4 separate regions of the Homo sapiens genome follow, and regions 1, 3 and 4 are each linked to region 2. The links come from fine-mapping of genetic effects on gene expression. A gene starts in region 2. Each other region holds a variant in brackets. All regions are shown on one strand. Distances are between the middles of the regions. Region 1 overlaps TUBB3 (tubulin beta 3 class III). Region 2 holds the start of TCF25 (TCF25 ribosome quality control complex subunit). Region 3 holds the start of LOC124903759 (keratin-associated protein 5-1-like). Region 4 overlaps TCF25 (TCF25 ribosome quality control complex subunit).

Region 1 (5,526 bases), 53 kb after region 2:
AGATGACCTTGGTCCAGGACCAGGCTCTCCATCGGCGCAGCCGCTCCTGGGCAACCCCCGCGGGGCTTGACCGCGCCCACCCAGGGTCTACCAGTCTGGGGATTGGATGTGGGAACAAAGCCGGGCTGTGGGGTGTGGAGGCTGCACCGTGGCGCGCCCCTCCCTCCATTGTTAGCCCACCTCGCAGATGTTGGGGCCACGCAGAAAGGGGCGTTGGTGCAGCTGTGCAGGGACCCCTGCCTAAATCATTAAGGGGACGTCGTGTCCCCTGGTCCTGGGAGGCTGTCCCTGGCCCAAGGTCACACAGCAGGTGCGAGAGAGCTGGGCTGGCCCTTGGTTCTCATCCCCTGCAGGAGCCAACCTGGGGCTCGGGCGGGGCGGGTTGGGGGCGCTGCTTGCCAAAGGATCTGCCCTCCGAACAGTGTTGGGGAACAGGGGATCGGGGGGGGAGGCTGGCTTTGTCAGGACCAAGGCCAGGGACCCAGCTCAGGGCTGGTGCAGCGCTGATTCTGGGAAGGAGGGGGTGCAGGAGACGGTCCTGGAGGGGAAGGGGCCAGAGAAAGGCAGCCTCCGGAGGCTGTTGCCATGGAAACCAGGCAGGAACAAAAAGCTAATTACAACAGGGCCAGCCACGTGGCTGACATGTAAATTGCAACTTTGGCTCCGGGTGGAGGCGCCTCTGAGGGTGGGAGGCCCAGTAGTGGGGAGACTCTAATCACCCAAGGAGACAGCTGTGCCTGCCAAGGAGAGCCTGGGGGAGGGGAGACCTGGGGGACAGTGGCCTCAAATCAAACCAGGACTCCCGGAGCAGCCTCTGACAGCTGCCTTGGCCTGATGGGAGGGGCTGAGGGCTCATTAATGTGGTCACTGGGGCCAAGCCTCCCCTGAGCATCTGCTCCTGGGAGGGTCAGGGGTCGCTGGGGGGAGGGAGGGCAGGCAGCCCTGGGGCTCCTGGGAGGGTCAGGGGTCTCTGGGGAGAGGGAGGGCAGGCAGCCCTGGGGCCCACCTGGGGTTTCTCCTTCTATGGCTGGGATGGGCCCAGAGCTGTGGTCCCACAAGGCACTTGTCAGGCAAGAGCTGGGATCTAGAAGTCAGGTGCACATGCAGACATCCCCTGAGGCTCCACGGGTAGCAGAGGGAGCCCTTGTCCCCTGGACCGTGTCCTTGGCTGCCTTGTGCTCTGCTTCTGAACACTGGAGCTCTTAGTTTGCCCGCTACTTTTTATTCCTTTTGAGTTGTTTGTTTTTTCTTAATATATTTCTTTTTAAAAATTAATACCTGGCCGGGCACGGTGGATGAGGAATCTCATGTAATCCCAGCACTTTGGGAGACTGAAACTGGAGGATCACTTTAGCGAAGGAGTTCAAGACCAGCCGGGATAACATGGTGAAACTCCGTTTCTTAAAAAAAAAAAAAAAAAAATTAGCCTGGCGTGGTGGGCCGCGCCTGTAGTCCCAGCTACCTGGGAGGCTGAGATGGGAGCATTGCTTCAGCGTGGGAGGTCGAGGCTGCAATGAACTATGACCGCACCACTGTACTCCAGACTAGGCGATAGAGTGAGATCCTGTCTCACAGTAATAATAGTATCTGATTCTTTTTAACAATGAAAGCAACAGAGAAGGAAATTTTCTCGGGGGCGGGGGCGGCAAGAGCGTGTTCCTTTGCTCTGCTGCCCTTGTGGAATCAATGGGAAGTTCCTTGGCCGTTCTCGGCCTCCACTCCCGCAGCTGATAGGGGGTGCAACGCGGCTGCTTCCCTGTCTGGGGTCCTCGGGCGGTGCCTGGCTGGGCAGGAAGGCCCGTGCACTCTGGGCAGAGGGAAGTCGGGGTGACTCGAGGCCGGGAGCAAAGCCGGGTCCCGGGCGGTCACGCGGCAGCGCGGACGACTCACCGCGGTCACCCCTGCGCTGGGAGCCGAGCCCCCGGCAGCTCGCGGGGATGCAGTAAGCCGGGCGCAGCCCGCCGGGAGGATGAGAAAACCCGAAGCCCGGAAAGCCGAGCGGCCGCCTGCAGTCACCCCGGGGGGGGCAGGGGCGGGCCGGGCTATGCAGAAACACCGGGGCCCGCGGGACACAGGACGCTGCCCCACTGCCGCAGAGCTGAATCTGGACCCCCGGGCTTTGCTTTCCTGGGGCCTGTGCTCCTCCCTCCCCGGGGCGGGGTTCGCCTGCAGCGGCGGAGGGGGGAGCCTTTGTCCTCCGCGCGGGCTGCGGCACCGCCTCCTCGCGGCTGCGGGGCGGGGCTGGGGGCGGGGCCTGGCCGTCTCAGCCAATGGGAGGCGGAGTCCCTGGCTCGCCCCGCCCTCTCGCCTGAAAGACCTGCGGAGCCGCGGGCCGGGCGGGAACCGCATTCGGGTCCTGGAGGGGCTTGGAGGCCCCAGTCTCGCAGCCCCTTCATCGGGGACCCCCGCTCCCACCTGCCTTGGCCACTGCCCTCAAAGCCCGGCCCCGCTTTCCCCAGGACCCCAAGCGCTGCGCGAGGTCAGCACCAAGGACAGCGCCCGGGCCGAGCGCCTGGCCTCGAACGCCGGGTTCTGCTTTGTGTTTCCAGGTTTTTGTTTTTGGTTATGAGAGGAGGCCTGGCTCTGTCGCCCGGGCTGGCGTCCAGAGGCGCGATCTCGGCTCACTGCAGCCTCGGCCTCCCGAGTAGCTGGGACCGCAGGCGCTCACCACCACGCCTGGCCACAATTTTCCTTTTTTCTTATTTTCTTTTAGATGGAGTTTGGCTCT[T/C]GTTGCCCAGGCTGGAGTGCAGTGGCGCGATCTCGGCTCATTGCAACCTCCACTTCCTGGGTTCAAGCTATTCTCCTGCCTCAGCCTCCTGAGTAGCTGGGATTACAGGCGCCCGCCACCACACCTGGCTTATTTTGTACTTTTACTAGAGATGGGGTTTCTCCATCTTGGTCAGGCTGGTCTCAAACTCCTGACCTCAGGTGATTCACCTGCCTCAGCCTCCCAAAGTGCTGGGATTGCAGGCATGAGCCACCACGCCGGGCCGATTTCCTTTTCTGTAGTGATGTTAACAATTTAGTTTATAAAATTATATTTTATTGTTTATTAAATATGTAACATAGGCCAGGTGCGGTGGCTCACACCTGTAATCCCAGCACTTTGGGAGGCCGAGGTGGGTGGATCACCTGAGGTCAGCACTTCAGGGCCAGCCTGGGCAACATGGCAAGACTCCGTGCCTACAAAAAATAAAAAACAAAAAAAATTAGCTGGACATGGAGGCACGCCGGCCTGTGGTCCCAGCTACTTGGGAGACAGAGGTGGGAGGATCACCTGGGGGAGGTGGGCAGAGGTTAAAGTGAGCTGAGGTCATGCCCCTGCATTCTAGCCTGGGCAATAGAGCAAGACCCTATCTAAAAAAAAAAAAGGAACAATATATTTTATTACTTTATCTCAAATTATAATTTTATTAATTTTAACTACAAAAGCAATTAATATATTCTCCTGGTTAAAAAAAACCTTAAATATTGCAGATAAACCTGGTGCCCATCTAGCCACCTCTCTCTATCCAAGTGGGAACAAATTTCTTTTTCTATCCTTCTGGTCCATTTTTTTTAAGTGACCTGTGCATATGGTTTTAAAACTTTAAATAGTATCTAAAACATTTGAACAAAATGAAGCCAACATGTGCTGAATGTTTTCATGTCAAGCTTTGTGCTAAGGCCTGGATGTGGGCACCATTCACACGTTCATCTCACAGATGAGAAAACAGGTCCTGCGAGGCACGCGCCTGGCCCACAGCTGTGCTCGTGCTGGGTCTTGAATCCACTCTGCTCCATTGCTCCTGCTGCCCTGTGCCTCGCTCTGCAGAGGACTTCCCATAGATGTGTTACTCTCTCCACCCCTCCTTTACAGGGGCTGGTGGTTGTGGGTTCCCTGGAACCATAAATTTGGGGTGTCCCAGTGCTTTGGGGAGCAAGGTCCCCGACTCAAGTGGACTGCCAGCAACTAAATTAATGGGGGATCCTCAAAGAGAGTGTTAGGGAGGCAAGCAGTAGGTGGGAAGCTTGGACAAGCCCCAAATGCCTCAGGGACCTTTCTGTATTTTTTTTTTGAGACAGGCTCTTACTCTGTCGCCTGGACTGGCATGATCTAGGCTCACTGCAACCTCCACCCCCCTGGCTCAAGTGATCCTCCCACCTCAGCCTCCTGAGTAGCTGGGGCTATAGGCATGCGTCACCATGCCCAACTAATTTTTTTGTTTTTTGGTAGAGACAGGGTTTCACCATGTTGCCCAGGCTGGTCTTGAACTCCTGGACTCAAGTGATCCACCTCTCTTGGCCTCCCAAACTGCTGGGATTATAAATATGAGCCACCATGGCCAGCTGATTTTTTTGTTTGTTTGTTTGAGATGGAGTCTCACTCTGTCACTCAGGCTGGAGTGCAGTGGAGTGATCTCGGCTCACTGCAACCTCCACCTCCTGGGTTCAAGCAATTCTCCTGCCTTAGCCTCCTGAGTAGCTGGGATTACAGGCACCCGTCACCACACTGGCTAATTTTTTTTTTTTTTTTTTGAGGCGGAGTCTCTATCTGTTGCCCAGGCTGGAGCACGGTGGCACAATCTCGGTTCACTGCAAGCTCCGCCTCCCAGGTTCACGCCATTCTCCTGAGTCAGCCTCCCAAGTAGCTGGGACTACAGGTGCCCGCCACCGCGCCTGGCTAATTTTTTGTATTTTTAGTAGAGACAGGGTTTCACTGTGCCAGCCAGGATGGTCTCGATCTCCTGACCTCATGATCCGCCCACCTCGGCCTCCCAAAGTGCTAGGACCACAGACAGGCGTGAGCCACTGCGTCTGGCCTAATTTTTGTATTTTTAGTAGAGATGGGGTTTCACCATGTTGGTCAGGCTGGTCTCGAACTACTGACCTCGTGATCCACCCGCCTTGGCCTCCCAAAGTGCTGGGATTGCAGGCGTGAGCCACCGCGCCCGGCCTTTTTTTTTTTTTTTTTTAAGATAGGGTTTCACTCTTGTCCCACAGGCTGGTGTGCAGTGGCTTGATCTCAGCTCACTGCAACCTCTGCCCCCTGGGTTCAAGCGATTCTCGTGTCTCAGACTCTGAAACAACTGAAATTACAGGTGCGCGCTACCACGCCCGGCTAATTTTTGTATTTTTAGTAGGGACAGGGTTTTGCCCTGTTGTCCAGGTTGGTCCTGAACTCCTGACTTCAAGTGATCTGCCTGCCTCAGCCTCCCAAAGTGCTGGGATTATAGGCATGAGCCACCACACCCAGCCTGAATCATTTTTGTAATTTAAAAATTTAACGCAAAAAGAATAAAACTTAGCAATAACAAAAATGCACAAAAGATGGAAAGAAATCCACCCCTGACCTTTGTGGAGAGATGACCTCTGATAACAGTCTCAGGGTGAACGGGCACCTCTGATAACAGTCTCAGGGTGAACGGGCATCCCGAGACACTGTTAGCAGAGGTGGTCCATGTCCATGCTGTCCGCGTTACAATAATTACACTATGTTTATTCTTAAGGTTTTAAAAACATTTATTTTTAACAAATTTTCTTTGA
Region 2 (6,044 bases):
CTTGCCTCTGCTCTCCCTTTGTGGGGACTCAGGCAGCAGAGGCATCTGGGAAGTCTCTGAGTAGGCAGGGTCCTCCTGGGAGGCACCCCCACCTGTTTGAAAGGTCTGGCCAGGCGTGGTGGTTCAGGCCTGTAATTCCAGCACTTTGGGAGGCCGAGGAGGGAGGATCACCTGAGGTCAGGAGTTTGAGACCAGCCTGGCCAACATGATGAAATGTTGTCTCTACTGAAAATGCAAAAATTAGCCAGGTATAGTGGCAGGAACCTGTAATCCCAGCTACAGGGGAGGCTGAGGCAGGAGAATCGCTTGAACCCGGGAGGTGTAGGTTGCAGTGAGCCGAGATTGCACCACTGCACTCCAGCCTGGGCGACAGAGCGAGACTCTGTCTCGAAAAAAAAAAAGGTCCGTGCCAAGCTGCTCCCTGCCCTTGCCCTTTCCCTTTCCCTGGGGTCCAAACCACATGTGTCCTGCCTCTCCTGGCCCTACCACATTCTGGTGCTGTCCTCACTCGCCCCTGGCCCAGAGGCTCCTGAAGATGCTGGGCGGTCCTGGCACAGGGAGGAGCAGCTCTGTAAATCTGTGCACATGGCCACTCTTGGCCTAATAAAGGAGGTCTCACAGTCTTCTGTCTGGGATGTGCGCTGAGGATTCACCCAGCATGGCATGTTCTCCCAAGGTTGAAGCTGGGCTTGAGGGGCCACCTGCCTTCCAGGACGAGGAAAGGCCTCCTGGCTTAGAGTCAGGTGCCCACCAGGCAAGGGCTCCAGGCCTGCTCTGTCCACGCAGCCCTGGCTGCCTCTACCAGCTTCGTGGTCCTGGCCACCATGGTCAGGGCTGCATGCGGACGGCACAGACTACTGCCCATCAGCTCCTCTGGCCACACCTGCTGGCCTGGGGGGTACTTTGGTCTCATTTCCCAGATCCGTATTCTCGTTCTCCAGGGAGAGGATCCACAGGGGCAGGAGGTGTGACTGCAGGCTCTAGACAGGCCCTGTGCCGAGTGCTGTCTGCTCACCTGCGCCCGGCTCAGCCTGTTAACGGGGCCCTGCCCTGCTCCTCCGTGACGTTCTGCCGTCATCTTACCTTACAGATGAGGGAACTGAGGCTCAACGAGGTCAAAGAATTTGGCCAAAGATACACAGCTCACCCAGAACTTTGACTCCAGGCTGTAATGCTAGCCGTGGGGCCTGGAGGTCAGAAGGGACAGGACTTGTAACTGATGGGCCTGCGGGAGAAAATACTCCTGTCAGCTGGGGTCCAGGAAATCCAAACACACAAAATTAGAGCCCCCAGTAAAAACAGCCAGCTTCTAGCATGCGTGTAAGCATTTCACGGACTCTCTGGCCTGTATTTTTATTCCTGTTTAAAAATAAGAAAACAGGCACAGAGAGGGTCAGGGAACTCCTCCGGTCACACAGCCAGCAATAAGCTAATGTGTAGTGCTTGGTAAGGACGACGGTTGTTCTGGTTCTACGGGGACTCACACTCCCTATCATGGGGAGACTGGGTTGTAATTCATACAGGAACACTTGGAAATGAAAGCCCACGTTAAAACCCTAAACCACGGCAGGTGCAGTGGCTCACACCTGTAATCCCAGCACTTTTGGAGGGTGAGGTGGGCAGATCACTTGAGGTCAGGAGTTCGAGACCAGCCTGGCCAACATGGTGAAACCCCATCTCTACTGAGTACAAAAATTAGCCGGGCATGGTGGCACATGCCTGTAGTCCCAGCTACTCGGGAGGCTGAGACAGGAGAAGTGCTTGAGCCTGGGAGATGGAGGTTGCAGTGAGCCGAGATTGCGCCACTGCACTCCAGCCTGGGCAACAGAGCAAGACCTCATCTCACAAAATAAAATAAAACCCTAACCCATCCTGGGAGGGGCCAGGCCGGCTCACCAGGGCTGCTGCTTGTGCTCATGAAGCCGCAGTAAGTCGGGCAGGAGGCTGCTGGCACCTGTCTTCTCTATGCCCTCCTGTCCCCATGTCCCCAACCCCAGGCACAGGAAGCTGTGCCCTCCGCCCACTGAACCCAGCACTGTCTCAGCCTCATCTACTTTATTTTTTTCATTTTTTTGAGACAGGGTCTGGCTCTGTCGCCCAGGCTGGAGTGCAGTGGCGCGATCTCGGCTCACTGCAGCCTCAGCCTCCCGAGTAGCTGGGATTACAGGCGTGCGCAGCCACGCCCAGCTAATTTTTGTATTTTTAGTAGAGGGAGTTTCACCGTGTTGCCCAACCTGGTCTCGAATTCCCGACCTCAGGTGATTCGCCCACCTTGGCCTCCCAAAGTGCTGGGATTACAAGCGTGAGCACCGCGCCCGGCCCTTAGATCGTGACAAACGCGGGCGGCCTGTCCTAGAACTGTCAGAACCACTGTCCCTAAAGAGGCCTCGGGCGGGCAGTAAGGGCCGCGTCACTCAATGCTGCTCGAGGGGCGGCGGCTCCAGGGCAGAGGCGGGCATCGACGGCTAGATCACTCGAATGACACCCTGACACGAAAAGGACCAACTAGCAACGTCCGGGACGCAGCTGAAATGCTGCAGGCACGGTGCGGGGACAGGCCCCGGCGGGCAGAACGCGGCTGCGGGTTCCGGGCCACATGGATGGGCAAGGCCGGGCAGGGCCGACTGTCGCCGGCTGCGCGCCCGTTACCCCGAATCGAAGCCCGTCATCCCCGCGGGGCACCTCTCCATGCCCGGTGCGCACGGCGCGCAGACACCCAGCTCTCCAGAGACCTGGCCCGGACCCCCCGGAGCCCGCCCAGACGCCGCCGCTGAAGCGGGAAAGTTCCGGAGAGCCGCGACGCGCAGGCGCCGCAGCCAGGTCCTGCCCCCACCCCTCGCGCCAAGAGTGCGCAGGCGCGCAGCCAGCTCCCCCGCCCCCGACCCCGCGCGAAGAGTGCGCAGGCGCGCCGACAGCCGAGTTTTCTGCGCTTCCTTCTCCCTCTCTCCAGACGTCGTGGTCGTTCGGTCCTATGTCGCGCCGGGCCCTCCGGAGGCTGAGGGGGGAACAGCGCGGCCAGGAGCCCCTCGGGCCCGGCGCCTTGCATTTCGATCTCCGTGATGACGATGACGCGGAAGAAGAAGGGCCCAAGCGGGAGCTTGGTGTCCGGCGTCCCGGGGGCGCAGGGAAGGAGGGCGTCCGAGTCAACAACCGCTTCGAGCTGGTGAGGAGCGCGGCGGCCCGGGTGGGGGTGGGGTGGCCCTTGACGTTGTGGGGCGGGGCGAGCGTCCAGCCGGGTCGGGGAGCGGGGTTGTGATGCCAGGGGTGGGAAGGGTGACGTGGGTCCCAGCCGCAGTGGGGAGGGCGGGGCCGTGCGTCGGGGCCAGGGCGACGCGGGTGGGCGGTGGCGTGGGGTGAAGACGGCGGGCCGCGGAGTTAGACTGGGTTCTAACCCCGGTGAGGTGGGCGGGGCTAAGGGATGGGGCGGGGCCGTGCTGTCGGGGCGGGGCGACCGAATGGGCGGGGTTAAGCGGGGTCCGGGTTGTGGAGGGTGCGGGGCCTTGATGCCAAGGGCGTGGCCAACGTCCGCGGGGCCGGGCCACGACGTGGGCGGGATTAAATGGGCCTGCGGCCACGTGGCTGTCGTGGGGCCGTGACGCTAAAGGGCGTGGCTAAAGACGGGGGGGTGGCGAGGCGATGGCGTGGGCGGGGTTAAATGAGGCCTGGGGCCACCGTGGGGGTGGGGCCACGGCGTAGGGGCAGGAGTCGGGTGGGGCTTCCCTTTCTCGAGTCTAGAGGGGCCTTCTCTCGGTTCCAGGGTTGAGGACTTGCCAGGCCTCTGCGAGCATTCTGCTTTAATCCTCACAACAACTCTGCCTAACCCAGGGCCTTGCTCTTCGCGCATCCCCATCAGCCTAACCCAGCGGATTAGTCTTACTCTTTGCTGCATCTCCGGCAGCTCGTTTCTGGCACAGGGAAGTAACAGTTTGACTGTATGGTTTGCTCATGCGGTCCTGTGACGTTTTCTCCTAAGCCCTGGCCTCCGTCTGTAACTCTGCCTCTGCGGGCTCTGCGATCCTCCCACCTCAGCCTCCTGAGTATCTAGGACTACAGGTGGATGTCACCACGCCCGGCTAATTTTTTTTTTTTTTCTTTTTTGTAGAGAAGAGTTTTCGCCTTGTTGCCCAGGCTGGTCTAGAACTTCTGCGCTCAAACAATCTGTCCACCTCAGCCTCACAAAGTGCTGGGACTACAGGCGTGAGTCACCATGCTTGGTTGACTGCCCTTCTCGCATCAAGTCCACCTTTAGTGGTCCCCAAGACCCCCGTCAAGGTTCAGTAATTTGCTAGATTCACAGCAGTTACTGAAAGCTTTTTGTTTTGAGATGGAATCTTGCTCTGTTGCCCAGGCTGGAGTGCATTGGCACAATCCTAGCTCACTGCAACCTTGAACTCCTGGGCTCAAATAGTCCTCTCACCTTGGCCTCTCAGAGTGTTGGCATTAGAGGCATGAGCCACTGTGCTTGGCCCCGTAAGTCTTTTTAAATTTTTGTCAATGTAATTTGTGAAAAATGATATCACATTATTTTATTTTACACTTCTTTGGTAGTGAAATGCAGCACCTAGCTATGTATTCGTTGACCATTTATATTTCTCTTTGTGACAACCTGTTTATATCTTTGCCTTTTTATAGGGGGTTTGGACAGTCTTTTTGCTCGTGGAAGCTTGCTATCGATTGTCTCTAACGTATTTTCTCGGTTTGTGTTTGTTCTTTAACTTCTTTAATTTCTGCGTGCTGAAAGATACTGGAGCCACTTTTCTCATTGTTACACATCCATCTCTCTAGAGTGTCTTCACATAGATATTCCCTGACGTGAGTTTTTTTTTTTTTTTTTTTTTTTTTTTGAGATGGAGTCTCGCTCTGTCGCCCAGGCTGGAGTGCAGTGGCATGATCTCGGCTCACTGCAAGCTCCGCCTCCTGGGTTCACGCCATTCTCCTGCCTCAGCCTCCCAAGTAGCTGGGAACACAGGCGCCCGCCACCACGCCTGGCTAATTTTTTGTATTTTTAGTAGAGATGGGGTTTCACCATGTTAGCCAGGATGGTCTCGATCTCCTGACCTCGTGATCCGCCTGCCTCGGCCTCCCAAAGTGCTGGGATTACAGGCGTGAGCCACTGCGCCTGGCTTTTTTTTTTTTTTTTTTTTTTTTTTTTGGTTACAGACAGGGTCTCACGGTGTTGCCCAGGCTGGTTGCTGGTCTTGAACTCCTGGGTTCAGGTTATCCTCCTGCCTCAGCCTCCTGAGCAGCTGGGACTACAGCATACCCTACCATGCTCAGCTTGTTCTTTTAATGCTTTTTTTTTCCCATTTAAATATTTAATCTTTTTGGTATTTATATTTGTGTTGGTGGGAATTTGGAAAAAGTGTGGTTCATGAGTTGACAGAGTAAGAGTCTGTAAGGTCAGAAACCACACAAACCCTTGTGGACTTTCTGGAGTGAGTTTGAGTGTCAGTAACACTAACAGCCTCCATGGATGAATGACTGCTTATCGTGCTGTGTTCTTAGGAATTTCAGAGAATTTTATCCAGTGGCACACATCAGTCTTAATTTAAGCATTCCATACTTTTTTGCTCTTAAAACTCATATTTGGAAATAATATAATCAAAATGTTTATTGGCATTCTGTTAAATAGCTCTTAATAAACAGAAGTATGGGAGACAGTAAACAGCCAGTTACGACTAAATGGTTATGAATGTGAATGCATTGGTGAGAGACATGGTGTTTCTCTTTTTAAAAAATTTTATTTATTTAGAGACAAGATCTCTTTATGTTGCCTAGGTTGGTCTTAAACTCCTGGGCTCAAGAGATCCTTCCGCCTTGGCCTCCCAAAGTGCTGGAATTGCAGCTCCCAGTACTTTGGGAGGTGGGCAGATCACCTGAGGTCAGGAGTTCGAGAGCAGCCTGGCCAACATGGTGAAACCCCATCTCTACTAAGAATACAAAAATTGGGCCAGGCGTGGTGGCACATGCCTGTATTCCCAGCACTTTGGGAGGCCGACGTGGGCGGATCATGAGGTCAGGAGATCCAGACCATCCTGGCTAAC
Region 3 (6,044 bases), 39 kb after region 2:
GACCGGGAGAGCAGGGCTGCGGCGCAAGAGGGCCAACTGCCAGGCGGCCGGTGTGTCTGGCTTTCAGAATCCGGGTCATTGAAAGGCTTTTTACCTTTTCCTTCTGGGCTGGAAAGTACTTGCCTTACCCAGGCCCCGTCACCCGCACAGCGGTCGTCGTGATTATCCCTGCCGGCAGGGTGTTGCAGCATTGAGGAATCGCGGTTCTTTGCTGCCTCCCTCCGCTGTGGAGCCCAGGCTTTCGCCCTCCCTAGAGCTCCTGAGGCCTGGCCGCTCAGCGTCCTGTAGAGCCGGGCCGGTAGCCCTTCGCACCGTGAGGGTCTCCGCTTAACGCAGGCCCTGGAAGCTTCTGCCTTTGCGTAAGGAGTGGGTGCTGAAGGAGACGTTGAAACTGCAGCTTTTCTGAAAAGCAAGGCACCTGTGCAGTGGCCGAGGATGGCTGTGGGAGCCTCGCTCCGGACGCCACGCCTGCCTCAGCTGAGTTGGTCTCCCTCATCCTGTTCCCGCTGTCCACAGCCCCACCCTAAGCTGATGAGGAAGCCTCACGGGCCACCCGGGGAATCCAGGGCCTGTGCTCAGCTGCTGCTGCTCTGCCCCCTGGCGGCCCCTCCGTGTCCCTGCGAGGGAGGCAGCTGGCAGGCAGCCCCGTGAGCCGGGTTGGGTCCCACGAGTCTCAGTTCAGTGTCGTTTCTGACTTTTCTTGACTTTCTTTCAGGCTAAGTCCTATCAGCCATGGAAACACCATTGCTCTCTTCTTCCGGTCACTGTTGCCAAACTATACCATGGAGGTAGGTTGAGCTCGTCCCAGCCCCTGCCTCCCCAGTGGGTGCGGGCATATCCATTCCAGTGCGAATGCCTGGAGCCTCCTTGAACCAGGACTGTGCCAGCCGGCACAGGGAGCAGGGAAGGACCAAGGCTGCATTGTGCCAGTGGGGTGCCCATTCTGCCGGGGAAACTGGGGCCTGCCCAGATGGTAGCAGATGCAGGGCCGTGAGTCAGCCGGCTTGATCCCACTCTGTGCCTGGCTTGGTCTAGACACGGCATTTGGTTTTGAGAGCTTCCTCCTCACAGGGACCTGGGGAGGGTTCAGGGTCCGGTGCTGGGGCAAGGGCCACCTCGGGCTCCACAGTGCCTCCTGCTTGGGCCCCGGGCCCCTAGTCCCAGCACAGACAGCCCCCTTCTCAGACATGTCCCCTTGCTGCAGGGGGAGAGGCCCGAGGAAGGAGTGGCTGGGGGTCTGAACCGCAACCAGGGCCTGAACAGGCTGATGCTGGCTGTGCGCGACATGATGGCCAACTTCCACCTCAACGACCTGGAGGCGCCGCACGAGGACGACGCTGAGGGGGAGGGGGAGTGGGACTGAGCGTCCGCAGAGGTGACCGAAAAGCCGTATGATGATGTTCCCGATTTCTCTGTTGGTCGGAGTCGGCCAGTTGCCTGAAGTAGGGAAGCTGAGTGTGTCGCTCCCTGGTCCACTGTTTCTCCTATAAATGTAAATGGGTCACGCTCTGCCGTCCGCACCTTCTCCTTTCGCAGGCACTGAGCGCCGTCCCATGCCCTCGGATTCGAATCACACTCAGTCCATTCTCCTCCCAGTGGCTTGTGGGTGAGGTGGGGCCCAGACCCCATGCTTCCTGTGCTCCCAGGATCTGGGCACGGGTGGAGAAGGGGCCCCACGGGGTCTTCAGTGCAGGTCCCTGCTGAATGCCAAGGCCCTGGGTGCACGTCCTCCTTGAACTTGCTGTGGAGTTCGTCAACAGAGCTGCGTGCCTTGTTGGTAGAGGGTCTCAGGGCAGGGCTGGAGCAGAGAGGCCCCTATGTGGCAGCCGGCCTTCAGTCTTGTTCCTCCAAGCAAGTGGGGTGGAGATGTTGGGGTCCTTTGGCTGGATGCCACTATCTGTTGAATCTGACAAAATAATTTTCTTTTTTTTTTTTGAGACAAGAGTCTCACTGTGTCGCGCAGGCTGGAGTGCAGTGGCGCAGTCTCGGCTCACTGCAAGCTCCGCCTCCCGGGTTCACGCCATTCTCCTGCCTCAGCCTCCCGAGTAGCTGGGGCTACAGGCACCCGCCACCACGCCTGGCTAATGTTTGTATTTTTAGTAGAGACGGGGTTCCACCATGTTGGCCAGGATGCTCTCAATCTCTTGACCTCATGATCCGCCCGCCTTGGCCCCCCACAGTGCTGGGGTTACAGCTGTGAGCCACCGCGCCTGGCTCTGCCAAAATAATTTTATTAGAGAACTTGAGGGCAGTGCCCAGAATTGAAGGCGAAGCCCCAGAAGCATGTTTTGCAGAGAAGTGCCCAGGGAAGCTCTGAGGGCCCATGTAGCAAAGATCAGGGGATAGTCGGTCTGAGGGTGAATGGGCCACTCGGACCAAGACCCCAGTCTTGGGGGAGGGCTTAGCTGGAGCAGGTCCTGGCACAGTTGACTGATGGTGCACAGAACCCGTGCATCCCACGGCCCCACGGTGCTGCAGCTGCAGGAGGGGCGGAGGCTGCAGCCAGACAGCATCAGAAGCCAGCGTGGTTCTGGAAGGATCGAGAACACCAAGGTGTTAGGGCTGCAGCAGGGGTCCTGTCCCCTGGCACCCCTCACCGCCCTAATCTTTTACCCTTAGGAGGCAGCAGACACGAGGGGCTGCCCGAGGCTCTAGGGCGGCCAGTGAGGCAGGAAACATGTTCCAGCCCCAGCTAGGTACTGGTCCGTGGACCCACCTCCCAGAAAGCCCATCACTGTGTAATCGTCTAACCTGGGGCTCGCCGAGGC[C/T]TGTGAGTTCATCCTTTTGGCAGTTCCTGGTGTCTCCTTACTCTGCTCAGCATTTCCTGGGCGGGAGCTTAGGGTGCAGGACCCTCCCCAGGACGACGAGGGCCCAGTGTCCATGACAAGAGTTGGCCCGAGGGCTGAGCCACGTGTGCCCATCTCAGACGTGGGCCTGAGGGTGCAGCCCTGGCCCTGTGCTGGCCATTTCTAGGAGCGGTGCCCTGAGGTCCCAGCTGTGATAGCCCCACGCTCTGCAGGAAGAGATCATGGGGGCGGGGAGTTGGTGCTGCGGCCTCGTTCCTCTCTGCAGTGAGTGAACGATGTTTGTGGTCAGCAGGAGCCTGTGGGGAGCACAGGCTGGTCCTCCTGGTGTCCCACCCACCCCTTTTTCCATGGGGGATCTGCACTCATCTCCAGGGAAGATGGTTGGGAGATAACCCCAGTCTGCTCTAGGTCCCCACCCTCCACAGCCAGGGTGGTCCGTGGTGAGCTTCAGCCATCGAGATGCGGGAGTCTGCTAGAGTCTTCAGGGTCTTTTCTCTGAAAATGACAGGCTAGCAAGGAGACCTGGGTCCCCTGCCTCTTCCATTCCAGATGCCTTGAGTCCACCCAAATAGGGGATGTGATGTTTGGAGCTGCAGCAGCCGCCCTACGGTTGGGAGTCAGAGAAGAGCCGGTGTTCCAGGGACAATGCAGCAGAGGCTGAGCCCAGGCCTGCTGTCCTGAGAGGTGGCTGGATCACTGACACTTTGGCAGTGGTGCTGGGGTTTATGTCATGACCTGCAGCTGAGCCTACTTCCAATGACCGTGAGATCTGAAAGACTGTTTTGAGGGCGTAGCCTCTGCCATGATTGTGGGGAATGCTGTCCTGTTTCCTCCCTTGGCCCTGCTCAGCCCAGCGAGAGGCTGAGGCGCACGTGGCTCCCCGGGTGCCCACAGGCAGCGTGGCTCACCAGCCGGGCCCTTTTCCACTGAGCCAGAACCCCCCAAAGCCTTCAATGCAGGCACCACGGTGAGCCCACGAGAAACCCTGCTTGCCACCTCCCACACCCCCACCCCCAAGTTCAAAGGAAATGGTCCCTGAACCAAGGGCTGAGATCAGCTGTGGGTCCAGCTGTCCTGGGGAGCTGTACTGGAGCCCACCACGGTGGGACTGTTGGTCCGGCGGTGACCCCCACCTCCATGTCTGTGGCCGCAGCTGGACAGGCCACTCCCTGGGCCACAGAGATGTTTTACCTCTCGCAGCCCTCGGGCACACATTGAGCAGATGTGTGTGTGTGTGCGTGTGTGGGTGGGTGCGCATTTGTGTGTGCCTGTGTGTGTGCGCATGTGGTGTGGGTGCACGTGTGTGCACGTGTGTGGGTAAACATTGTGTGTGCGCATACGTGTGTGGGTAAACATTTGTATGTGCACGCGTGTGTGGGTAAACGTGTGTGCGCACGTATGTATGTGTGTACATTTGTATGTGTGTACATTTGTATGCATGTGTGCCTGTGTGTGTGTGCCTGTGTGTGTGGGTGCACATTTGTGTGTGTGTGTGTGCCTGTGTGTGTGTGTGCACGTATGTATGTGTGCACACTTGTATGCATGTGTGCCTGTGTGTGTGGGTGCACATTTGTGTGTGTGTGCCTGTGTGTGTGGGTGCACATTTGTGTGTGTGGGTGCACATTTGTGTGTGTGTGCGCCTGTGTGGGTGCACATTTGTGTGTGTGTGTGCCTGTGTGTGTGCCTGTGTGTGTGGGTGCCTGTGTGTGTGGGGCACATTTGTGTGTGTGTGTGCCTGTGTGTGGGTGCACATTTGTGTGTGTGCCTCTGTGTGTGTGCCTGTGTGTGGGGGTGCACATTTGTGTGTGCGCCTGTGTGTGGGGGTGCACATTTGTGTGTGCGCCTGTGTGTGTGGGTGCACATTTGTGTGTGTGTGCGCCTGTGTGTGTGGGTGCCTGTGTGTGTGTGGGGCACATTTGTGTGTGTGTGTGTGCCTGTGTGTGGGTGCACATTTGTGTGTGTGCCTGTGTGTGTGTGCCTGTGTGTGGGGGTGCACATTTGTGTGTGTGTGTGCCTGTGTGTGGGGGTGCACATTTGTGTGTGTGTGTGCCTGTGTGTGTGGGTGCACATTTGTGTGTGTGTGTGCCTGTGTGTGTGGGTGCACATTTGTGTGTGTGTGCCTGTGTGTGTGGGTGCACATTTGTGTGTGTGTGTGCCTGTGTGTGTGGGTGCACATTTGTGTGTGTGCCTGTGTGTGGGTGCACATTTGTGTGTGTGTGCCTGTGTGTGTGTGCCTGTGTGTGTGGGTGCACATTTGTGTGTGTGTGTGCCTGTGTGTGTGGGTGCACATTTGTGTGTGTGTGTGTGCCTGTGTGTGTGTTGCAGGCCCTGGATGCCAGACACTGAATAAACGCAGGAAGACGTCTGTCTTCATTCTCCTCGTGGGTCGCTGGTCCAGAAACACCTGGATGGAAAGTGCTCTGCAGGAACGGTGCCTCTGCCTGTGGCGGGGACCCTGGTGAGCGGATGGGCCAGCCCCACGTGTCTTCCGGCCACTCAGCATGCAGTGTTTCCAGGGGCACTAAGAGACCAAAATCGAGATATGATTAGCTGTAGGATGTCATCTAATCACAGATCATCCCGAGGCTAATTTATCTCCCCCATGACCATAACACATCAAAAAGTTGACTTTTTGCAGCTCGGCTGTGCCTCATCTTCCCACGAAGCCCCGACAGGCACATCCAGTGAGGAACCACAGTGGGAGTCCTGTGGCAGGGTCACCCCACTTCCGATGCCCTCCAGCTGCATCTTGGCACGAAAAAGGCTGCCCAGTTCTCATGCCCTTTCAAGTCCCGGGCTGGGGGGTAGCAGTGGAGGCTGGGGTTAACCGCCGTCCGTCTCAAAGGCCTCATTGTGGAGCTGCAAACACGAACGTCCTTGAAATGTGAGGGGACAGTGCTCTGGGGCAGGGGCTGCTCACTGGTTCATGGCCAGAGGTGAGCGGGCTCTGGGTCTGGGTCTGTGAGGTGCTGTGGACGTCGGGGGTGCTCCTGGGGCAGGGACACAGCCACGGCCCTCACACCAGTGGAGCCGTCTTCCTTCCCGAGGCAGAGGCTTGGCCTTCTCACACCTTGGGACCCTTCTCTCCCCTGTGCTCATGCTGGAAGCACAGCGTGAGGGGGCAAAGGTCATGGGAGGCAAAAGGCTGGGCTGAGGCCGAGGCTCTGTGGCTGTGGCCGGATACCAGGTCCTGTGGTGGTGTGGGCAGGGCGCGCTCTCTCCTCTGAGCAGCCTGGG
Region 4 (6,044 bases), 20 kb after region 2:
GCCTGCCAGCCTTCAGAGCTCCTCCAGGCTCCTGTCCCCTGCCCCCTCCTGGCATCTGCCCAGGCTGCCTCGTTGGGTCTGTTCTGGAGGCTTCCTTACTTGTTTTGTGGGATAGCTCACCGCAGGTCAGGCCATCCCTGGGATTCTGTACATCTGGCCCAGGAGAGTGCTGAAGGGCTGACTCTCCTAGGCCTGGGCGTGTGCTACAGGCAGGAGAAGCAGGCTGGGGCCACCTTCATGTCAGGAGGGCCCACCACACTGGCCTCCACTCTGCGGTGGCTGAACTGTGGGGAGCCCGGGGCCAGGGCAGGGATGGCCCCGTGGGAAGGGAGCTGCACCGTGCTGATGGTGACCGTGGGCATGGCTGCTGCTGTCTGTGCTGCCGCGGCTGCCACGCCCCACCTGTCTGGTGCCTGTGTGCTCAGGCAGAGTGCCCTGACCTCTGTTATTTGGGGGTCTCTGCCACAGGGGTCAGGCCCACTCTAAGCACTGGTCAGCTGGTATCTGAGCTGGGCAGGTGGGGCAGCATGGAAAAGGCATGGAGCTGCTGTTACCTCAGAGATGGTTGGTTTCTTAAGTTGAGTGATGGGCATGTGGATATTAGTACGTTGTTCTCTTTCTTTTCGTTTTCTTTTTTTATTTTCCTCTTGAGACAGGGCCTTGCTCTGTCGTCCAGGCTGGAGTGCTGGGATCACAGGTGCAGGCCATCACGCCAGGCTAATTTTTAAAACCCTTTGTAGAAATGGGGTTTTGCTGTCTTGCCCAGGCCAGTCTCGAACTCCTGGGTTCAAGAAATTCTCCCATCTTGGCCTCTCAAAGTGCTGGGATTACAGGTGTGAGCCCCCGTGCCCAGCCAGAATTGTTTCTTTCTCTCTATGGGGCCCTCCCTGCTGCACCCGTCCCACAGCAGTTGCTGACGCTTGTTTGCATCCTGTCCTTAATGCGTCCCCACCCTGCCCCACATGCCTTCTCTGCCCCTCAGTTTTGCTTCCACAGCCCGTGCAGGGATCAGGCAGCCAAGCCTTGGTCCCCACACGCCACAGGAAGTAAAGCTGTACCTGTGTCCCGTTCTCCCCAGGCCACGGCAGAGACAACGTGTGTACCCCAAGTGCACATGGCTGACCACCCCTAAAAGCACCTGGCCCCGCTACAGCAAACCAGGTGAGGGTCTGCAGATGCTGCTGGGGATGGAGGGTTGGGGGGCGTTGTCTGTGCACTGGCCCCGGTACAGCAAACCAGGTGAGGGTCTGCAGAGGCTGCTGGGGGTGGAGGGCGGCGGGGGGGTGTGTTCTGTGCACTGGCCTGCGCTGGGCACCAGGGGCGTCAGTGCCTCTTGAGCCGAGACTCTTTGCTCCAGGAGCGCTCCAGGAGTGTGCAGTGTGTGACTGTTTGTTGCCACACTGAGGGCCTGAGTGCTGGAGGCCTGGCCCAGTACCTCAACACGGAGCCTCCCAGGCACAGTCTTTGTGTGACTGTCTTTTAACGCAGGTTCTTCCTACCATTCTGCCATCGACCTTTCCCTTATGGAAGCAATCGAGTTCATTTTAAACTGCAATATTTTGTATATTATTGCAAACTAATAAGTGATTTTAAGATGAATTGCAACAGTGAAGACAGGCATGGAGTGTTGGGTGCTTGGTTGTGTGGTGTGGGGAAGTGTCAGGAGGCCTTCCACACTGGCCTCCACTCTGCAGTGGCTGAACTGTGGGGGCCCTCAGGGGCCAGGGCAAGGACAGCTTGTGGGAAGGGAGCTGTGTGGTGCCCTTGGTGATCGGCATGGCTGCTGCTGTCAGCGCTGCCATGGCTCCCACGGCCGCTTCTCCTGCGCCTGTGTCTGTGGGGGTGCCGGAGATTGCCTGCATACATTCTGTAAGGACACATCTAGGAGCGAGGCCTGTGCTGTCAGAAGGTGAACCCCGCTGCTCACGGCCCCTTCCCTTCCTGGCAGGAACCCCTGCTCACTGCAGACAGGGGTTCCATGGCCATGTATTCCTGCAGGACTGGGGCCTTGGGCAGGGCCATCAAGAAGGTATCACTACAGGGGACCTAGTCCATGGAGGTCCTGGGAGGCTGAGCTTTCCAGGTTTATCAGAAGAAACTGGGTCCCATACACCCAGTCAGACAAGAGGAGCCAAGTGAGAGGGTGGTCACACGTTACAAAGCTCTGTGGCTTCAGAGGCCTGGCGCTGTGGCCACCTGTGCCACCGCACTCCAACCCTGTCCTTCCACAGCCACCCCGGACATTCTCCTCAATCAGACGTGGTCTGGGGACAGTGCTCGGCGTGGTCAGATCTGGCGATCTGTGGACTGTGTGTGTCCTTGTCCCTGACATTCCCTCCAGGCCAGTGGGGCTAGAGCTGTATCCGAGTTCTGGAGGCAAACACGTCTTGATAGGAAACTAAAGCAGACGGGATGCCGTCTCCTGGTGTAGACCAGACGGCGGGTGTTTTGGGAAGGTGTCCGGAGCTGGTGACACCCATGAGTACACACTCAGGTCAAGTTTGTCGATATCGCAGAGGCCTCATCCAGAACACCACGAAGGTGAGGGCTGTGCTCGGAGCTGCCCACGTCCCTGCTCCCGGCACACCCTCCCTGAGCACTCTCCCCTCCCAGGTCTGTCCATGCGGCTGCTGGAATCAAAAAAAGGCCTCTCCTTCTTTGCGTTTGAGCACAGTGAGGAGTACCAGCAGGCTCAGCACAAGTTCCTGGTGGCCGTGGAGTCTATGGAGCCGAACAACATCGTGGTGCGTGGTCCCTGCAGCCCCTGACAGGAGCAGGGGCCATGTAGCCACCACTGCCCTGGGCCGCCTGCTTCCCTGGTGGCTGGGGGAG[G/T]CATGCTGCCTCCTGCCCTTCCCAACAGGAAGGGTGCCAGTCTCTGCAGGGCGGTCTGGCCCTGTGACCAGAAGGAGATGTGTTCGGAGGCTCTAGGCCAAGCGAGCTCCATCCATACTCAGAGGAGAGGCTGGAGCGCTGCTCTCTCAGCCGTTCCTGGGGACCGTCGCAGTAGTGCCGTGTGATGCAGGCCCAGGACTCTGGGGCTTCTCACTGCTGCCCTTGCCTCCTGCGGCTCAGTGCAGGCGAGCAGCTCAGATTCCCGGCCCCCGTGCAGCCCCCGGACGGCCCCCACACGGCCCCGGACGGCCCCCGCGCAGCCCCAGACAGCCCCGGACCTGGACAGTCCCCGTACAGCCCCGGTGCAACCCTGGACAGCCCTCATGCAGCCCCTGGACAGCTCCCCTTGCAGCCCCGGACGGCCCCCGCGCAGCCCCAGACAGCCCCCGGGCGGCCCTCACGCAGCCGCCGGACAGCTCCCCTTGCAACCCCGGACAGCCTCCGCAGAGCTCCCCGTCATCTCCCTGTGGGAAAAGCAGGCTGCTGCTTTCCATTCCTCTTTCTTGGGGCTTAGTGGGGAGTTAGGTGGCCCCTGGCCTGGGCATGTCAGGTTCTGAGTTCTTGCTTTAAGTCATATAATTGGTTCAGCTTAGCAATAATAACTAGCCTATTTTGAGTTGGGGGGACGTTGTGAGTGTCGACCCGGTAATTCCCCCGTTTTTGTTTTTGTTTTTGGAGTCGGAATCTCACTCTGTCGCCTAAGCTAGAGTGCATTGGCGCAGTCTCGGCCCGGGTTCAAGCGATTCGCCTGCCTCAGCCTTCCGAGTAACTGGAATTACAGGCACACGCCACCACACCCGGCTAATTTTTGTATTTTTATTAGAGACCAGGTTTTGCCACGTTGGCCAGGCTGGTCTTGAACTCCTGATATCAAGTGATCCTCCTGCCTCAGCCTCCCAAAGTGGTGGGATTACAGGCGTGAGCCACTGCGCCCAGCCTCCGCTGGTTTTAAATGTCTGAAAAAAAGGCATGCCTGGGAGCTGGGGCCTTGCTGAGTGCCTTTCCTCCAGGGCTGTCCTCCCTTCTGGTAGGTTCTGCTCCAGACGAGCCCTTACCACGTTGACTCACTCCTGCAGCTCAGCGATGCCTGCCGCTTTCAAGAGGATCAGGAGATGGCTCGAGACCTCGTAGGTAAGGCAGAGCCCCCACCCCATTCCCCTCAGCTGTGGGAGCACCTCAAGCTATCAAGACAGATGCGATGGTGTAAGATGACAGGGGTTGCCAGGATATCCATGACAGCTTTATTGAGATACAACCTACGTAGCACAAAACTTACCCATTTAAAGTTTTTGTTTGTTGGTGTTTAATATATGCCACAGCCTCCCGAGTAGCTGGGACTACAGGCGCCCGCCACCAGACCTGGCTAATTTTTTGTATTTTTAGTAGAGATGGGGTTTCACCGTGTTGGCCAGGATGGTCTCGATCTCCTGACCTTGTGATCCACCCACCTCAGCCTCCCAAAGTGCTGGGATTACAGGCATGAGCCACCACGCCCCGCCCTCTGGCTTTTATTTACAATGAAGTTTTCAAGGTTCATCCTCACTGTAGCGTCGATCAGAACGTCGTTCGTTTTTATGGCTTAGTAATACTCCACTGTGTGGACGGACCACATGTTGTGTATCCATCATTAGTTGACGGCCGTGTGGGCTGTTGTAAATAATAGTGCTTACGTCAGCATGCACACGCAGTCTTAGGTGGACACATCTGTGCTGCACACATGGACGCCTGGTTCTGTCAGGACGTGGCAGCAGTTGTGCCTCATGGTGTTGAAAGTGTTACCATGTCAAGCTCACAAGTTCTGTGGTTGAAATAAATGCAGCGTGGCATCCAGGGTGCCCAGGGGCATGTCTGCCCTCTCAGTGTCCAGGACTCTAGTTTCGTGACCTTCCGTCCAGACCTTTCCTTGTTGTCCATTATCAGAGGAGGGGCCGTGGTTGCTGTGTGTGGCCATGACACCCTCCCCTGGCGTCCCTGTGCCCACAGAGAGAGCGCTGTACAGCATGGAATGTGCGTTCCACCCCCTGTTCAGTCTCACCAGTGGGGCCTGCCGGCTGGATTACCGCAGACCCGAGAACAGGTGAGTGCAGCTGCCCTGGAGGTGACGCAGCTCCCCTTCCCTTCTCCTGCGAGTGAGGCTGGGGGAGGTGCAGTGGGCACCTCATGGCTGCCCTCCAGGGTGGACCAGGGCCCACAGGTCCAGAGTGACCCACCTTCCTCTCTCTGGGCTTAAGGATAGAGGGATGGGATTGTCTCAGCCCAGGTTTACCTTTGTCTGTGGACATGCCTGATGCTACTGTGGAGGTCAGAGTGGGAGGTCTGCTGAGCCCAGGAGTTCAAGTCCAGCCTGGGCACCATAGTGAGACCCCCATCTCTTAAAAAAATAAAAATAAAAATAAATGTTTGTGTTAGAAGTGAGCCTGGCTGGGCACAGTGGTTCACGCCTGTAATCCCAGCACTTTGGGAGGCCGAGGTGGGAGGGTTGCTTGAGCCCAGGTGTCAAGACCAGTCTGAGCACCGTGGCAACATGCAGTCTCAAAACAGCATTTTTTTTTTTTTTTTTTTTTTGAGACGGAGTCTCACTCTGTCACCCAGGCCGGAGTGCAGGGGCGCGATCTCGGCTCACTGCAAGCTCCACCTCCCGGGTTCAAGCCATTCTCCTGCCTCAGGCTCCCGAGTAGCTGGGCCTACAGGCACGTGCCACAACGCCTGGCTAATTTTTTGTATTTTCTAGTAGAGACGAGGTTTCACTGTGTTGGCCAGGATGGTCTCCATCTCCTGACCTTGCGATCCACCCGCCTCGGCCTTCCAAAATGCTGGGATTACAGGCGTGAGCCACCGCGCCCGGCCACTACAGAACATTTTAAAAACTAGCTGCGCCTGGTGGCGCGTGCCTGTGGTCCCAGCTACTTGGGAGGTTGAGGCGAGAGTATCACTCAAGTGAGCCCAGGAGGTCGAGGCTGCAGTGAGCTGAGATGGTACCAGTGCACTCCAGCCTGGGCAGCAGAGTGAGACCTTGTCTCTCAAAAAAAAAAAAAGAAGAAGAAGAAGAAGTGAGCCTGAGAAACCAGATCTCCACAGTGGGCTCTGCAATTGCATTTCCTTCTATGTTTGGCTGAGAAAACCCATCCCTGGCAAGTTTAGAAGCTTTGGAA

Evidence for each region.
Region 1: its variant is fine-mapped to the expression of TCF25 in thyroid (GTEx, PIP 0.98).
Region 3: its variant is fine-mapped to the expression of TCF25 in whole blood (TOPMed, PIP above 0.99).
Region 4: its variant is fine-mapped to the expression of TCF25 in whole blood (TOPMed, PIP above 0.99).

The regions. Positions count from the first base shown.
Region 1 is chr16:89,924,025-89,929,550 of GRCh38, forward strand. The region is part of intron 1 of TUBB3 (tubulin beta 3 class III); the gene reads left to right. Among named protein-coding and RNA genes, the nearest start is that of TUBB3, 3.4 kb to the left of the region's middle. RefSeq lists an enhancer at 1,248-2,148 and a silencer at 1,915-2,574. The variant T/C (reference allele first, on the strand shown) is at 2,729.
Region 2 is chr16:89,870,697-89,876,740 of GRCh38, forward strand. TCF25 (TCF25 ribosome quality control complex subunit) reads left to right here and starts at 2,896. Exons shown (of 18, transcript NM_014972.3): 1 at 2,896-3,163. The coding sequence starts at 2,972. It overlaps SPIRE2 (spire type actin nucleation factor 2), which reads left to right. Exons shown (of 15, transcript NM_032451.2): 15 at 1-623. It overlaps LOC112268179 (a long non-coding RNA gene), which reads right to left and starts at 2,792. Exons shown (of 2, transcript XR_002957933.2): 1 at 2,272-2,792; 2 at 1-1,225. RefSeq lists enhancers at 1,654-2,610, 2,381-2,540 and silencers at 2,621-2,740, 3,211-3,680.
Region 3 is chr16:89,909,876-89,915,919 of GRCh38, forward strand. TCF25 (TCF25 ribosome quality control complex subunit) reads left to right here. Exons shown (of 18, transcript NM_014972.3): 17 at 716-788; 18 at 1,205-1,504. The coding sequence ends at 1,363. LOC124903759 (keratin-associated protein 5-1-like) reads left to right here and starts at 1,784. Exons shown (of 4, transcript XM_047435031.1): 1 at 1,784-2,770; 2 at 3,357-5,265. The coding sequence starts at 4,226. RefSeq lists a silencer at 346-640 and enhancers at 2,184-2,685, 2,686-3,185. The variant C/T (reference allele first, on the strand shown) is at 2,769.
Region 4 is chr16:89,891,115-89,897,158 of GRCh38, forward strand. TCF25 (TCF25 ribosome quality control complex subunit) reads left to right here. Exons shown (of 18, transcript NM_014972.3): 6 at 1,079-1,161; 7 at 2,614-2,744; 8 at 3,924-4,023; 9 at 4,876-4,969. Among named protein-coding and RNA genes, the nearest start is that of TCF25, 21 kb to the left of the region's middle. The variant G/T (reference allele first, on the strand shown) is at 2,833.